2 separate regions of the Homo sapiens genome follow, and region 1 is linked to region 2. Evidence: fine-mapped expression QTL. A gene starts in region 2. The other region holds a variant in brackets. All regions are shown on one strand. Distances are from middle to middle. Region 1 overlaps ADAMTS12 (ADAM metallopeptidase with thrombospondin type 1 motif 12). Region 2 holds the start of TARS1 (threonyl-tRNA synthetase 1).

The links.
Region 1: its variant is fine-mapped to the expression of TARS1 in whole blood (INTERVAL, PIP 0.96).

The regions. Positions count from the first base shown.
Region 1 is chr5:33,706,373-33,714,718 of GRCh38, forward strand. All of the region lies in intron 3 of ADAMTS12 (ADAM metallopeptidase with thrombospondin type 1 motif 12), which reads right to left. Among named protein-coding and RNA genes, the nearest start is that of ADAMTS12, 180 kb to the right of the region's middle. The variant T/G (reference allele first, on the strand shown) is at 4,919.
Region 2 is chr5:33,435,739-33,444,084 of GRCh38, forward strand. It overlaps TARS1 (threonyl-tRNA synthetase 1), which reads left to right and starts at 5,227. Exons shown (of 19, transcript NM_152295.5): 1 at 5,227-5,405. The coding sequence starts at 5,349. It overlaps TARS1-DT (TARS1 divergent transcript), which reads right to left and starts at 4,896. Exons shown (of 3, transcript XR_001742630.2): 1 at 4,467-4,896. RefSeq lists a silencer at 239-288 and enhancers at 4,573-5,160, 4,815-5,124, 5,225-5,414, 5,675-5,734, 5,749-6,335.

The DNA.
Region 1 (8,346 bases), 270 kb after region 2:
AGTGTTCCTGTATAGGGTGCATATATATTTAGGATAGTTAGCTCTTCTTGTTGCATTGATCCCTTTACCATAACATAATGCCCTTCTTCGTCTTTTTTGATCTTTGTTGGTTTAAAGTCTGTATAATCAGAGACTAGGATTGCAACCCCTCTTTATTTTGGGCCTATGTGTGTCTTTGCACATGAGATGGGCCTCCTGAATACAGCACACCGATGGGTCTTGACTCTTTATCCAATTTGCCAGTCTTTCTCTTTTAATTGGGGCATTTAGCCCGTTTACATTTAAGGTTAATATTGTTATGTGTGAATTTGATCGTGTCATTATGATGCTAGCTGGTTTATCTCAACAGATACAGAAAAGGCCTTCGATAAAAGTCAACACACCTTCATGCTAAAAACTCTCAATAAACTAGGTATTGATGGAACATATCTCAAAATAATAAGAGCTACTTATGACAAACCCACAGCCAATATCATACTGAATGGGCAAAAGCTGCAAGCATTCCCTTTGAAAACTGGAACAAGACAAGTATGCCCTTTCTCACCACTCCTATTCAGCATAGTATTGGAAGTTCTGGCCAGGGCAATCAAGCAAGAAAAAGAAATAAGGCATATTCAAATAGGAAGACAGGAAGTCAAATTGTCTCTGTTTGTGGATGACATGATTGGATATTTAGAAAACCCCATCATCTCAGCCCAAAAACACCTTAAGCTGATAAGCAACTTCAGCAAAGTCTCAGGATACAAAATCAACGTGCAAAAATCAAGCATTCCTACACACCAATAATAGACAAATAGATAACCAAATCATGAGTGAACCCTCATTCGCAACTGCTACAAAGAAAATAAAATACCTAAGAATCCAACTTACAAGGGATGTGAAGTACCTCTTCAAGGAGAACTACAAACCACTGCTCAAGGAAACAAGAGAAGACACAAATAAATGAAAACACATTCCATGCTCATGGATAGGAAGAATCAGTATTGTAAAAATGGCCATACTGCCCAAAGTAATTTATAGATTTAATGTTATTGCCATCAAGCTACCACTGACTTTCTTCACAGAATTAGGAAAAACTACTTTAAATTTCATATGGAACCAAAAAAGAACCCATATAGCCAAGACAATCCTAAGCAAAAAGAACAAAGCTGGAGGCATCATGGTACCTGACTTCAAACTATATTACAAGGCTACAGTTACCAAAACAGCATGGCACTGGTACCAAAACAGATCTGTAGACCAATGGAACACAACAGAGGCCTCAGAAATAACACCACACATCTACAACCATCTGATCTTTGACAAATCTGAGAAAAACAAGCAATAGGGAAAGGATTCCCTATTTAATAAATGGTGTTGGGAAAACTGGCTAGCCATATGCAGAAAACTGAAACTGGACCCCTTCCTTACACTTTATACAAAAATTAACTCAAGATGGATGAAGGACTTAAACATAAGACCTAAAACCATAAAAACTCTAGAAGAAACCTAGGCAATACCATTCAGAACATAGGCATGGACAAAGTCTTCATGACTAAAACACCAAAAGCAATTGCAACAAAAGCCAAAATAGACAAATGGGATCTAATTAAGAGCTTCTGCACAGCAAAATAAACTATCATCAGAATGAGCAGGCAACCTACAGAATGGGAGAAAATTTTTGCAATCTATCCATCTGACAAAGGGCTAATATCCAGAATCTACAAGGAACTTAAACAAATTTACAAGAAAAAAACAAACAACCCCATCAAAAAGTGGGCAAAGGATATGAACAAACACTTCTCAAAGGAAGACATTTATGCAGTCAATAAACATATGATAAAAAGCTTATCATCACTGGTCTTTAGAGAAATGCAAATCAAAACCAAAATGAGATACCATCTCATGCCTGTTAGAATGGCCATCATTAAAAAGTCAGGAAACAACAGACACCGGAGAGAATGTGGAGAATAGGAATGTTTTTACACTGTTGGTGGGAGAGTAAATTAGTTCAACCATTGTGGAAGACAGTGTGGAGATTCCTCAAGGATCTAGAACCAGAAATACCATTCGACCCAGCAATCCCATTACTGGGTATATACCCAAAGGATTATAAATCATTCTACTATAAAGACACATGCACACATATATTTACTGCAGCACTATTCACAATAGCATAGACTTGGAACCAACCCAAGTGCCTATCAATGATAAACCGGATAAAGAAAATGTGGCACATATACACCATGGAATACTATGCAGCCATAAAAAAGGATGAGTTCATGTCCTTTGCAGGGACATGGATGAAGCTAGAAACCATCATTCTCAGCAAACTAACACAGGAACAGAAAATCAAACACCACATGTTCTCACTTATAAGTGGGAGTTGAATAATGAGAACATATAGGCACAGGGAGGAGAACATCACACACCAGGGCCTATCAGGGGGTAGGGGACAAGAAGAGGGATAGCATTAGGAGAAGTATCTAATGTAGATAACGGGTCGATGTGTGCAGCAAACCACCATGGCACATGTATACCTATATAACAAACCTGCACGTTCTGTACATGTATCCCAGAACTTAAAGTATACTAAAAAATAAAAAATAAAAAAACAAATAAAAAACAAAACAAAACAAAAACAAACAAAAAAAGAATACTATGCTTCACCATATTAAGAAGAAATTGGGCAAAGAACATGAAGACACTTCTCAAAAGAAGACATTTATGCAGCCAACAAACATGAAAAAAAGCTCAACATCACTGATCATTAGAGAAATGCAAATCGAAACCACAATGAGATACCATCTCAGGCCAGTCATAATGGTAATTATTACAAAATCAAGAAACAACAGATGCTGGTGAGGCTGTGGAGAAATAGGAACCCTTTTACACTGTTGGTAGGAATGTAACTTAGTTCAACCATTATGGAAGACAGTGTGGTGATTCCTCAAAGACCTAGAACCAGAAATACCATTTGACTGAGCAATCTCATTACTGGGTATACACCCAAAGGAATATAAATCATTCTATTATAAAGATACATGCACACATATGTTCACTGCAGCACTATATTCACAATAGCAAAGATATGAAATCAACCCAAATGCCCATCAATGATAGACTGGATAAAGAAAACGTGGTACATATACACCATGGAATACTATGCAGCCATAAAAAGGAATGAAATAATGTCCTTTGCAGGGACATGGATGGAACTGGAAGCCATTATCCTCAGCAAACTAAAGCAGGAACAGAAAACCAAACACTGCATGTTCTCACTTATAAGTGGGAGCTGAACACTTGGAACACATGGACCCAGGGAGGGGAACAACACACATGGGGGATTGTTGTGGGGGGATGTGGGGGTTGAGAAAACATCAAGATAAGTAGCTAATGCATGCTGCGCTTAATACCTAGGTGATGGGTTGAAAGCTGCAGCAAACCACCATGGCACACTTTTACCTATGTAATAAACCTGCACATGTATTCCAGAAATTAAAATAAAATAATAAAATAGAAAAAAACAAGTCAAAATCCAATCTACCATGAAAATAACATATAAAAATAAAATATTGTCTGAAAAAATGTAGTAGAGTAAGCAATCCACGCAAACCAAGTGTACGAGATTCTAATTCCAGCTATTTGTTAATGGTTACAATCACTTAAACTCTTCGAAGCCAATTCCTTATCTTCAAAATAGGTTTAAAATTGTGTGTCTTAGTCCCTTCCCAGGACTGTTACGGTGACCCAAAGATATGCTAGGTATGACCATTCCATAAAAAGTGTTGTGTTATATGGGAGGAATCAGTAACTTATATTATTTCAGAACTATTTTTAGAGTTTTAAATTTGGAAAATAAAAATTCCTGAAGGCTCCAGCAACGTGTTAGTGTTTTCCAAGGCACTAATCAGATAAAATTTCTGCTTCTTCACTCAGGTCTATCCTCCAACCATTGCCATATAAGACAGCCTAAGAATCTGCATGTAAAAATGATCCTGAATGCAGTTTCCACCACTGGAGCATGGTGTCAAGGAGGCCAAGGTTGTAGGCTGGAACTAATCGTAACACATTTTAGAGGTTCACCACGTCTCCATTTTCTGATCTCAAATTGTCAAGTCTTCTTGCCACTCTCTCCCTTTGAAACAAATATTTATTATGCATCTGCTATGACCTAGTCATTGTACTAGAAATGGAGAAGATATCAGTGAGCAATAATGACATGGCTCCTGGCCTCATGGAGCTTGGAATTTGATGGTGAAGACCTACGACAAACAAGTAAGACAATCACACTTCTCAAAAGTTAGAGGTTGTCCTATGCACTGTGGAAGACACGAACAGACTGCTTAAACAACAGTGTAGGGAAGAATGCATTTTAGATAGCATGATCTAGAAGCATCACTTTGAGGGTGTGCCATTTAAGTTGAGACCTCAGTGACGAAAAGCCTATGTGCAGACACACAGAAATAATATTTCAAACATAGAAAAGAGCAAGCATAGAACTTCTATAGCAGGAAAAATCTTAATGAGTACTAAAAATTTTCAGAAAGAGGATTGGTTGAGACATAGTGAATGTGGGGCAAGTGGTCTAAGAGACTCCCCTGCACAGATAGGCAGGGCCAAATGATATACCATCTTGAGGGATGGCAAAAATAAGAATGGAAATTATGTGGTCATTTCTTCTTCTTCTCTCTTGCAGTGAAGATTCCAATAACAACTTTCAGCACCACCATTTTCAAATACCATGTCCTACCCCTGGACCAGCTTTATCACCAGCTCGGGACCTCAACAATGCCTTTTACACAGAACTCACAACCCAGAGAGTGACTGACTAACCCCACTCAACTTACTCCCAGAACCCTGAATCTCCTCTCCTCTTCCAGCCACATCCCCACCTCCCCATCCAAATTAACATGGTGCTTTCCAAGGCTCTGTTACT[T/G]ATTTCTCTCAGGGGTGTCCACCCTCGGTGACCCAGCCCAGTTGCTAGATATCATACAATTTTTACAGCTGACTGGCTGTTTTTACTTCCTTTTCAATTATTATTTTGAAACACATAAGAAATATTTTGGAACCATAAGTGGCTCAGGAAATTCTAAATTAAAGGCCTTGTAGGGCTGCAGCTGGCCCTGTCAGGTCTCACACCCCAGGGGACACACAGCACAAACAGATTTTGGTGTCCTTCCAAACTCACTGCATGATGCTCCAGGCACCACTCCCTACTGTTACTCTCTTAAACGACAGAACTGTGTAAACAAACACACAAGCAACATCCTCCCAAAGAAGAAATATGTACAATCAATGTTAATAAATGAGTATGATCATTGCTTCCCTCATCGCTCTTCCAATATTCTCTCTGAAAATGTCTAGAGTTAGAATTGTCAAATTTATTGTCTTTCAAACTCAAAGATACAATTACTACTTAAACACAGGGAATATAATGGATCCTGGAGAGAAGGAGTGACCCTAAGGATATGTGCAGAAAGCAGATCACTGATCACTTAATATTAGTTGTACTTGGAATCTTCAAATATCTGCTCAGCCTCTTACACTTGAGCTTGTAATTTTAAGAATAGTATTTCCATATTTTCTGAGGATGCAGTAGGTTACCAGTGAAGGCAGGATAGAATGATGTTTGGGCACAGTTCCAAAGCCAAATTAGTACCATCTCTTAGTAACTCCTAAGTGACTTTGTATAACTTACTTGGCTTTGTTCTACCTCAGTTTACTCATCTGTAAAATGGAGACATATTGGAATGTAACGAAATTCTGATGAGGATTAAATGACTTGATGCATAAACCACATGTAACAGTAGCAGGCACACCGTAAATACTTACTAAATGTTAAATATTACTATTAATAATTGATCTAACAAATAAAAACTGGCTGGAAAACATAAAAAACCTCACTGTCAATTAACAGCCAAGGCAGCATCAGGACTTCGAATGATGGCAGAAGGTCTCAACATATCCCCCAAAAGCACATACCACCCTCAAGAAGTAAAATGCTTTCAATGCTCTTTCGAGGTGGGTTTCAAATATAGACAAGTAATGAAACTTGGGCAGGGAGAAGAACTGCATAGATAGGAAGAGCAGCAAGTTGTGAAAAGGAAGTTATAAAACCCTCATCTTTGCAGCAGATTTATCTCTTGCAGGGGTGGATACGTTGGCAACACTAAGCCACAGAGATTCAGTTGAAGGTACTGAGTGAAGTAGTTACTATAGGTTTTAGGAATGACAGAGGTGGAGAAAAGAGTTGGTGAGGTTTGACAAGGTAAAAGATAGAGACAAGGCTAAGTGCAAAATCACTGACATAGGTGAGAAGCTGTGATGATCTACATAACAAACTGGCAAAGATGAACTAGTTTGGCCTCTTCACCCAAACCTCACAACTCTTCAGCCTCTTGAGTACTTCTTGTACAAAGAGGTGAAGCTGGTTGAGATGGGTTAGTACAATGCTGTCCTCCTGAACACTGGGACTTTGGTTTCCTTGATTCAATATCTGGCTTTGGGGCTGCAAAGTTGCCTGTAAAAAAATCAATGGGGTCATGGCCTAGATCCAATAGCAATCATCTAGTGGCAGAATATGGGATTTGGCTAGACTCTGTATAGCTTGGCCACATTTTAAAATAAATTTAGGACTTGTTAGGGATTTGCATCTTGATTTTAAACACATACTGGACAAACTCCACACTGGAGCTGTAACTGTGGAAGGCCAGGAATCTGAGGCCTTAAGCCTCTGAATGGATGTTTCTGAAAAGAAGAAGACGTTTCCCAATCAGTTCTTAGAGTTTGGTTCATAATGTGAAATGCAACAAAGGGAACAATCAGTATTATTAAAAGGGCCAGTCAGGGAGCTATACTTACACTCCTCAGCACACATTGTTTTATCAAGATTTTTTGTATGTAGATATGCCCAGTCAGCAATAGCAGGAGTGCTGTTAGCTCACTGCTGTGGAAATCAAGTTCTAGGGAGCAAAAACAGAACCAAGTAAACAGAAACCACCAACATACAAAGTAACTTCCTCATTAGTTTTAACTTCCTCCTTCATTCTCAGAAGTTTTAACAAGAGCTTTTAAAAATACATATTTAAAAGCTAGAACAACCTTTTATTGCTGGTTTTAAAGCATTTTTAATCCTCAAAACCACAAGATATCACAAACAGAAATTTGGAAATGGACCCAGTATGGGCATTTGATTTATATATAGCCTGCTTTATTTCACAAAACAACTAATGTGGGTTCCAAATAAAGACAGGATGGCCAGATGACTTAAATCAGGAGATGACAAGAAAAAAAAATTGATGAGGAGAAGATAAAATAAACTGAAACTAATGAAACTAATGAGAAAAACGGGTCACCATATTCTGTCGATTCACTTGTTTGGTTAGTCCACAAAGTTGGCTCTAGTTCTTGCCACTACTGAGTAAAAGGCAAATGTGATTAATTTTCAAGTCAGACTGATTATATGACAAGAATCTACTGTCAATAGAAATAAATCTATTTGGGAGACATTAAAAAACCCAGTAAGAACTAGTTATTCTGGTCATTATCATTCAGAGTAAGAGTCTTAAAGATCTCGTTTCTGACACCAACCTTCTTTTACAGATAAGAGCATGGTAGTCTTGGTTGGACCCCTGTCCTCCAGGAAGAACCTGAAATCTTCATGTGGGCTTGTGATACCACTTGTATTTATTTGAAAGTCTGGACAATTCAACAATTAGAGTCTTTCAGGAGTTGGTGTTTCTTTTAGAGAGTTTTACAAATTGGGGAACCATAAATAGGAGATAAAGTAATAGCCTACAGCTGCCTATATGTTACAGCTGAAGAAGGGGGAAAGCCCCTTTAAACTAATTTAGGATGAGTCGATGGGATATCATCTCACCCCAGTTAGGAAGGCTATTGTCAAAAACACACACACACACAAAATGCTGGCAAGGATGCGGAAGAAAAGGAACTCTCAAACACTGTTGTTGGCAATGTAAATCAAAATGTAATGCAAATGCAATGTAAATGCAAAGCCACTATGGAAAACAGTATAAGCGTTTCTCAAAAAACTAAAAATAGAACTACCGTATGATCCAGCAACCCCACTAATATCTTTTTATCCAAAGGAAAGGAAATCAGTATGTCAAAGGGATGCCTGCACCCCATGTCTATTTCAGCACTATTCATAAGAGCCAAGATATGGAATCAACCTAAATGTCCATCAACAGATGAACAGATAAAGAAAATGTGGGATATATACATGATGGAATACTATTCAGCCATAAAAAAGAATGAAATACTGTCACTTGCAGCAACATGGATGGAAATGGAGGTCATTATGTTAAGTGAAATAATCCAGCACAGAAAGACAAAATTACATGT
Region 2 (8,346 bases):
TTTCTCTCCTGCTGCTCTGTGAAGAGGTACCTTCTGCCATGATTGGAAATTTCCTAATGCTTCCCCAGCCATGCAGAACTGTGAGTCAATTCAACTTCTTTCCTTTATAAATTACCCAGTCTCAGGTATTTCTTCATAGCAGAGAACGGGTTAATACAGTGGGCATAAATTATAACACTGGGAGTAAATCAGAAGTTTTTTTTTGTTGGCAAATACACAAAAGTTGTATAACAGTGTTTTGTGCTTTAGGTCTGAGATGTGTTGGACGCTCCCGTGATCTTTGCTTAGCTCTAAACACATAGTGAAAGAACACCTTCCTAACACCAGAGGGCACTGTGCCACAGGGATACCTCTGCGAGGTTCCCACACTAGCAACTCATTACATTCTTCCCCTATGTTCCTGCACCACAGTCAACCTGTTAGAAATGCCTTCTGCACCTGTTGTTTCCTGACTTTTTAATGATCACCATTCTAACTGGTGTCAGATGGTATCTCATTGTGGTTTCGATTTGCATTTCTCTGATGGCAAGTGATGATGAGCATTTTTTCATGTGTCTGTTGGCTGCAAAAATGTCTTCTTTTAAGAAGTGTCTGTTCATATCCTTCGCCCATTTGTTGATGGGGTTGTTTTCTTCTTGTAAATTTGTTTGAGTTCTTTGTAGATTCTGGATATTAGCCCTTTGCCAGATGAGTAGATTGCAAAAATTTTCTCCCATTCTGTAGGTTGCCTGTTCACTCTGATGGTAGTTTCTTTTGCTGTGCAGAAGCTCTTTAGTTTAATGAGATCCCATTTGTCAATTTTGGCTTTTGTTGCCATTGCTTTTGGTGTTTTTAGACATGAAGTCCTTGCCCATGCCTATGTCCTAAATGGTATTGCCTAGGTTTTCTTCTAGGGTTTTTATGGTTTTAGGTCTAATATTTAAGTCTTTAATCCATCTTGAATTAATTGTTGTATAAGGTGTAAGGAAGGGATCCAGTTTCAGCTTTCTACATATGGCTAGCCAGTTTTCCCAGCACCATTTGTTAAATAGGAAATCCTTTCCCCATTTCTTGTTTTTGTCAGGTTTGTCAAAGATCAGGTGCTGGAGAGGACGTGGAGAAACAGGAACACTTTTATACTGCTGGTGGGACTGTAAACTAGTTCAACCATTGTGGAAGACAGTGTGGCGATTCCTCAGGGATCTAGAACTAGAAATACCATTTGACCCAGCCATCCCATTACTGGGTATATACTCAAAGGATTATAAATCATGCTGCTATAAAGACACATGCACACGTATGTTTATTGCAGCACTATTCACAATAGCAAAGACTTGGAACCAACCCAAATGTCCAACAATGATAGACTGGATTAAGAAAATATGGCACATATACACCATGGAATACTATGCAGCCATAAAAAATGATGAGTTCATGTCCTTTGTAGGGACATGGATGAAGCTGGAAACCATCATTCTCAGCAAACTATCATAAGGACAAAAAACCAAACACCGCATGTCCTCACTCATAGGTGGGAATTGAACAATGGGAACACCTGGACACTGGAAGGGGAACATCACACACCGGGGCCTGTTGTGGGGTTGGGGGACGGGGGAGGGATAGCATTAGGAGATATAACTAATGTAAATGACGAGTTAATGGGTGCAGCACACCAACATGGCACATGTATACATATGTAACAAACCTGCACGTTGTGCACATGTACCCTAGAACTTAAAGTATAATAAAAATATATTTAAAAAAAGAAACGCCTTCTGCTTTTTCTTTTTGCCATACTTAAATGAGGACTGTTTTTAAAGTTGAAAGAGAACAAAGAGTTAAGAGAAGCTGCTAGAAACAATGTTATATAGCAGTTAAATATAATTGTTAGCCTATCATTTTCTGCATCCAGCAAATTCAGGAATCTTGATCTCTCTGGTTTTCATTATACTTAGTTAAAATTAAGATACAATTCAGGCAAATGTGTCTAATGAGCATAATTAAATTGTTTTACATTAAAAGGTAAGATTAGATCCTATTGATTCTCATTCTAATTTAAATGTGGGGAGTTAGTTTGGTCTATTTAAGCCTATTAAAATTGTACATAACTCCTGGAATATCAAGCACTACTAATAATCTACTCTCATCATAAACTTTCTTCTAGATCTAGTTAGTAAAGGGGTTTTGACTTCTTTTATAATACAAATAAAGAGGTAATTTTCCAAACCTTGCTTGAAAAATTAAGCAAGTTTTGTCTCAACACTCAACATTTATTGAACATCTGCTGTGCGATAGGTTTACATCTTCCAGATGCTGGCAAAAATACACAAAGTGTGCTTTCGTGAAGTTTTCAATCAAGGAGATAAAATATATTTTAAAAAAACTATAAACTTGCAAGGTAGGAGAAGAGCTTAAGCTCAGGAGTTTGAGACAAGTCTGGGTAACATAGTGAGACCTCATGTCTACTAAAAATTAAAAAATATATATATTAGCCGAGCGTGGTGGTGTGCACCTGTAGTCCCAGCTGTTCAGGAGACTGTGGCGAGGGGATCAATTGAGCCTGGGAGATCAAGGCTGCAGTGAGCTGTGATCACACCACTGCACTCCAGCCTGGGCAACAGAGCAAGACTCTGTCTCAAAAATAAATAAATGGATAGATAGATAGAATAAAAAATAAGAAAAAATTAACTGGGTGTGGTGGTGTGTGCCTGCAGTCCTACCTACTTGGGAAGCTGAGGCAGAAGGACTGCTTGAGTACAGCAGTTTGAGTCTGTAGTGAGCTATGATTGTGCCACTGCACTCCAGCCTGGGTAATGGAGCAAGACCTCATCTCAAAGAAAAAAGAAAAGAAAAGGACTATTATTAAAATCAAGGTGTCAGCTAAAGAGCAGTTATATATATATACACACACACACACACACACACACATATGTATATGTGTATACATATATATGTAATCTGCAAATTAGGTAGCTAATATTGCATAACTCTGTTCTCCTAGCACCTTTTCAAGTTACCCTTAGCCTTTGTCAGGACCTCGCTAGACTAGATTCTTTACCTAGAAGGATAGCCCAAACCTTCCTTCCTTCCTTGTCTTTGTTGGGTTCCCAGAGTTTTCCAACAGCGAAACATTAGACAAGGAAGTACTAAAAAAGGTCTCAGTGAATCTCCTGGGTTCTTGACAAAATTCTCCTTTATGTAGAAGAAACCCGCTTGTCCCCTTGTAATCAGGATCAATCACTCTGGACAGAAAAACAACCCCCAATTCTGCCTGTGAGTGTAGCAGTACGTGAAGCCCCACATAGGGTGTACTCTTAGGCCAACTGATCAGAACCATTACTGTGCATATATATATATATAATATATGTATATACATATACGTATGTGTATATGTGTGTGTGTGTGTATATATATATATATATACACATATATAGTAAACTTGCTTAGCTCTAAATACACACATAGTGAAAGAACAAGTTGAACCGGTAAGTTCTACCAAGAACCACATGAAACTACCAGCAGACACTATTGTAAGCGCCAAGGGGACCTTTCTCCTTGGCCCTCTGAGGTTTGGCTGAAAATCACTAACATGAGGAACATTAATAGAAAAAACATACAAATTTACTTAACGTGTATACACAGGAAGAATCACAGCGTGATTACCCACCCCTCAGAGGGCTTCAGAAGCTTGTGGATACAATCCCAGCGACACAGGTTATGATAGGGAGAAGAGGAATTCTGTTGAGGGATTACAAAGGAGAATGAATGTATCAGGAACACATTAATTTGTACAACATCTTGTGAAAGGGTCTGCTCAGGTGTGATTACTACATTCTTGGTCTTACAGGGAGGCAACAAAAACAATTATGTTCCTTGTGATGTGTCTAAACTTTATCCTTTGCTTTGGCAGAGATGGCGTGGGGATTTAGGGGAGTGGGACCTTGAGGCTTCTTCAGTTCAGATGTCAAAACGCCATTATTTGGGGGTATGTTTCTGCGCCTCCAACACTGTTTAACAGGGAGGCTTGTTTCATCCAGTAAGGGAGTCAAGAAATGGTTCCCCGAAGAAAACGATTCTTGAAATCTGACAATAAATGAGGTGTCAAACAGGCAAAAAGTGTGTCGGAATGAGCACGGATGAGGGTAGGGTGGAAAAATCTTGGTACTTAGTCTGTGGGAAGACCTGAGGAAAAAAAGCCACTACAGTTTATAGTTCAGTGTATGGTGGGCGAACGAGATGAAGCCGAAAACTTGGACAATCAGGGATTGTCCAAGAGCAAGGGAAAGCCACCAAAGATTTTTCAGCAGATTGCCGTGATCATATTTGTATTTGAAGACTACAACGATGCTGTATGAAAAATGGATGCACAAAGCCGAATTGGGAAGCTATTGTTCCTGGAAAGTATAACCCTGAAGGCGGAGAGTTGTAGAGAACAGAACTGATGTTTAAAAAGAAAAATCCACAAAACGTGGTGGTGGAGCACGTACCTGAAGTTATGCCTATTGCGCTTCTGATTTCAAATAAGTAATTGTTTTAAATTGCCTACTAACATAAAAAAGCCCAGTCGATTCCAAACACTGGCACCCAGGCGTGAGAATCCATGGTTATTTCCTTGGGTGAGCTTTATTGTATTTTTGCGGGCGCTATGGAAATGCTCCTCCAGGCAGTACAGATCAGCAGCGGCTCGTAGTGAAGAACGTTCAAGGAAGAGTTTGTCCCGGATCAACAGGACATGGGGCTTGGGAAGCCTGGACTGCCATGAGGAAGGTCGATTCACCACTACAGACAGGGAGCCTGAGGCCTGGGTGGTGCCGACAAGTCGGCAGTCACGCCAGGTCAGGAAGCGCCGAAGCCGCGGGAAACCCTGGACTCCATCCCGGGATTTGTCCCCGTGTCGAAGATGGTATCCAGGTCGCCGAAAACTTCCCGGAAGTTTAGACCAAGACCTACTTATTATCTACGGTGTCCGGGAAGGTCCATGATTGTTCCACATAAAGTCAGAAGGGAGGAAAGGCGCACGCGCATTGGGGACTTGACTCTGGAAAGCGTCCAGACCAAGGTCAGCGGAGAGTAGGCATGTAGCTTCTGCAGTTGCTCCTCCTCACCCTCCGCGACCTGATTTCCTAGAAGGGCTCTGTCACCCGAAAAGATTTTCCACTGGCTTAGAGGAGGGAGGGCCCGCCTTCCCCCGTTATCCATTGGCTGCTCGTTCCGCCGCAAGTTGGGGGCGGGGTTAGGGCGCCTTTCGATTGCATCAGCTGGTCCAGCCGAGGCCAAGTCCCGGGCGCTAGCCCACCTCCCACCCGCCTCTTGGCTCCTCTCCTCTAGGCCGTCGCTTTCGGGTTCTCTCATCGCTTCGTCGTTCGCCAATGTTTGAGGAGAAGGCCAGCAGTCCTTCAGGGAAGATGGGAGGCGAGGAGAAGCCGGTGAGCAAACTTGGTGGGACCCAGAGACCAGCCTGGGACTCTAGTGGGTGCAGACGCTACGCTCGCGGCGGGAGCGGGGGGCAGGAAGCAGGAAGCGGCCGGGACCGCGTGGGTCGGAGAAGTGGGGGATGGTGGGACTCCTGGAAAGTCGGAACCCCCTTTGGGAACCATCCATTCATAAATTAGGGTGGGGCCTTGCAGTTCATCTGTGGGTCCATTCTCTTTACAGATGAGGAAACAGACCTTGAGTGAGCGACTTGTTCAGAGCCTCACATCTACAGTAGTTAGACGCGGAGACAGAATCAGAATCTTAGGCTTGAGGCTTCCAAACTTGCGTTTATGGCTTACTGTAAGCGGGAAACACATTGCAGAGCCTTATTTAATCAATCTCCTAAGATCCTGCGGGGGTAAAGAGCTCCATTTTAAGGAAAGGAAAACCGAGTGCCCGAGATCTGACCCAGCTTGTCCAAGTTTGGGTGGTTAAGTATACATTTTGCCCGGCACTGATCTGGGCGGTGCATGTGGGAAGATGAATAGGGCCCAGTTCCCCGACTTTGAGGGCCTCACAGGCTGATGTGTAAGAGACAGGAAAACAGCCCTAGTGCTTTGTGATCAACCTTGTGGTATTACAGAAGAGGAAGTTTAGGAAGGCACTTTAGAATTTAGTTTGGAAGAATGATTTCACCAGGTAAACAGGCAGGACGGGGCTTCCCACGTAAAGGTAGGGAAGGCAGTGAAAAGGGGCACGCAGGTGAATTGTCTTTCGGGTTGTTTGCAAGAGATATGCCAGAAGGGTTAAAGGAACAGTAATCAGAAGGATCTTAGGCAACAAGGATGTTTGAAACTTGTATTCTATACATGAAGGATCTTAAGCAGGAAGATTGTATTTGTAAAAGTCACGCTGGCATTGGGATAGAAGGTTAGGCCACATGCAGAAGGCTGTTGTAATAGTCCAAGTGAGAAGTGGTGACGTCTTCAGCTAAGGGATCCTCTATCCCAAGTCTGTGACAGGACAGTTCACTTAAAAGCCAAATTTTTTTCTTGATTGTCCACTCGAGATTGAATGGAGAAACTGCATACGGGCACATTCTAACTATGTAAATTTAATTCTAGATGATAAATGGTGACTATACGTAGATTTTTTTCACATAAAATGATATTTTTACTGTTTTGTAACTTTTTTTTTTTTTTTTTTTTTTGCTTAATAGAATGTGGTCAACAACTTTCCATGTCCATAAATATTCTCCTGTGCTATTCTTAATTGGACGTGATATGTATGGTTAACACATATGTAATTTTTCCTTCCTGTAATAATTATACAATAGTTAATATTTATTTTGAGTACTAAATACGAGTTTGGCACTGTATTAATGCATTCCATGAATTAACTCATTCAGTCTTCTTTTTTTTGAGACGGAGTCTCGCTCTGTCACTCAGGCTGGAGTGCCGTGGTGCGATCTCGGCTCACTGCAAGCTCCACCTCCCGGGTTCATGCCATTCTCCTGCCTCAGCCACCAGGCCTGGCTAATTTTTTGTATTTTTAGTAGAGACGGGGTTTCACCGTGTTAGCCAGGATGGTCTCGATCTCCTGACCTCGTGATCCGCCCGTCTCGGCCTCCCAAAGTTCTTGGATTACAGGCGTGATCCACCGCGCCCGGCCTCATTCAGTCTTCTTAATAACGCTGTGAAGTGGGTTCTGTTATTATCTCCATTATACAGATGAGAAAGCAGGCGTAGGAACAGTAACTTGCTCAAACCCAGTATCCCCGTTTTTTTCCTTCCTCAAACCCAGTATCCTATAGCCAATACTAATAACCCCTGTGCTGTTCTGAGTGAGTCAGGGACAGATCATTCCTGAGAAAGGTAATTCTGTAGCTTCTCTTCACAATCCGGTTCTGTTTCCCAACTTTTGGGTTGAGATTTTAGATTACTTGTATGTAGATGTACATACCATATATACTCAGGGAAATAGAGAACAGTTGCCTACTCTCTTCCCAGTGTTGTAGAAAAGGGGTCATAGGCCTCAGGGTTCCAGAGAGACCTGTTGTAATTTCCCAGCTCTATTACTTAATGATACAAATGGGCAAGTTACTTCTTTGAGCCAGTGTTCTTGTTTGTAAAATGGAGCCGTATTTAGAACCAGAAAACCTTTGTGGTGATTCCCTCTCTCTCTCTCCCTCTCTCTCTCTCTCTCTCTCTCTCTCTCTCTCTCTCTCTCACTACCCCTGTTCATTTGGCAAATGGTCAAAACCAAAATAATCTTATCAGAAATATAAAACTTATTTTATCATCTTTCCATTTTAAACCTGCACAGACCTGCAATTTTTCTTTCTTTTTTTTTTTTTTTTTGTTGTCGTTGTTGTTGTTGAAATGGAGTCTTGCTCTGTCTCCCAGGCTGGAGTGCAGTGGCGCGATCTCTGCTCACTGCAAGCTCCGCCTCCCGGGTTCCAGCCATTCTCCTGCCTCAGCCTCCCGAGTAGCTGGGACTACAGGCACCCGCCACCACGCCCGGCTAATTTTTTTTGTATTTTTTAGTAGAGACGGGGTTTCACCGTGTTAGCCAGGATGGTCTCGATCTCCTGACCTCGTGATCTGCCCGCCTCGGCCTCCCAAAGTGCTGGGATTACAGGCATGAGCCACCGCGCCCAGCCGCAATTTTTCTTTTTACCCAGTATACTTGATCAGTTACATCACTTCTGCAGTATAACAAAGGCTCTATTGAATCTAAATGAACCTTTAAAGTTTATTAAATCCAGACTTCTGGAGTAGGGGGGATTTTAGCTCAGCATGAAATTAGGAGTCATATTTTAAAATTAGTTTTTTTTTTAATTATACAAGTAACGCATTTTATAGGATTTAAAAGACAATGGCCAAAATGTCCATCAACTGATAAATGGATAAGTAAGCAATGGAATATTATTTGATAATAAAAAGGTACAAT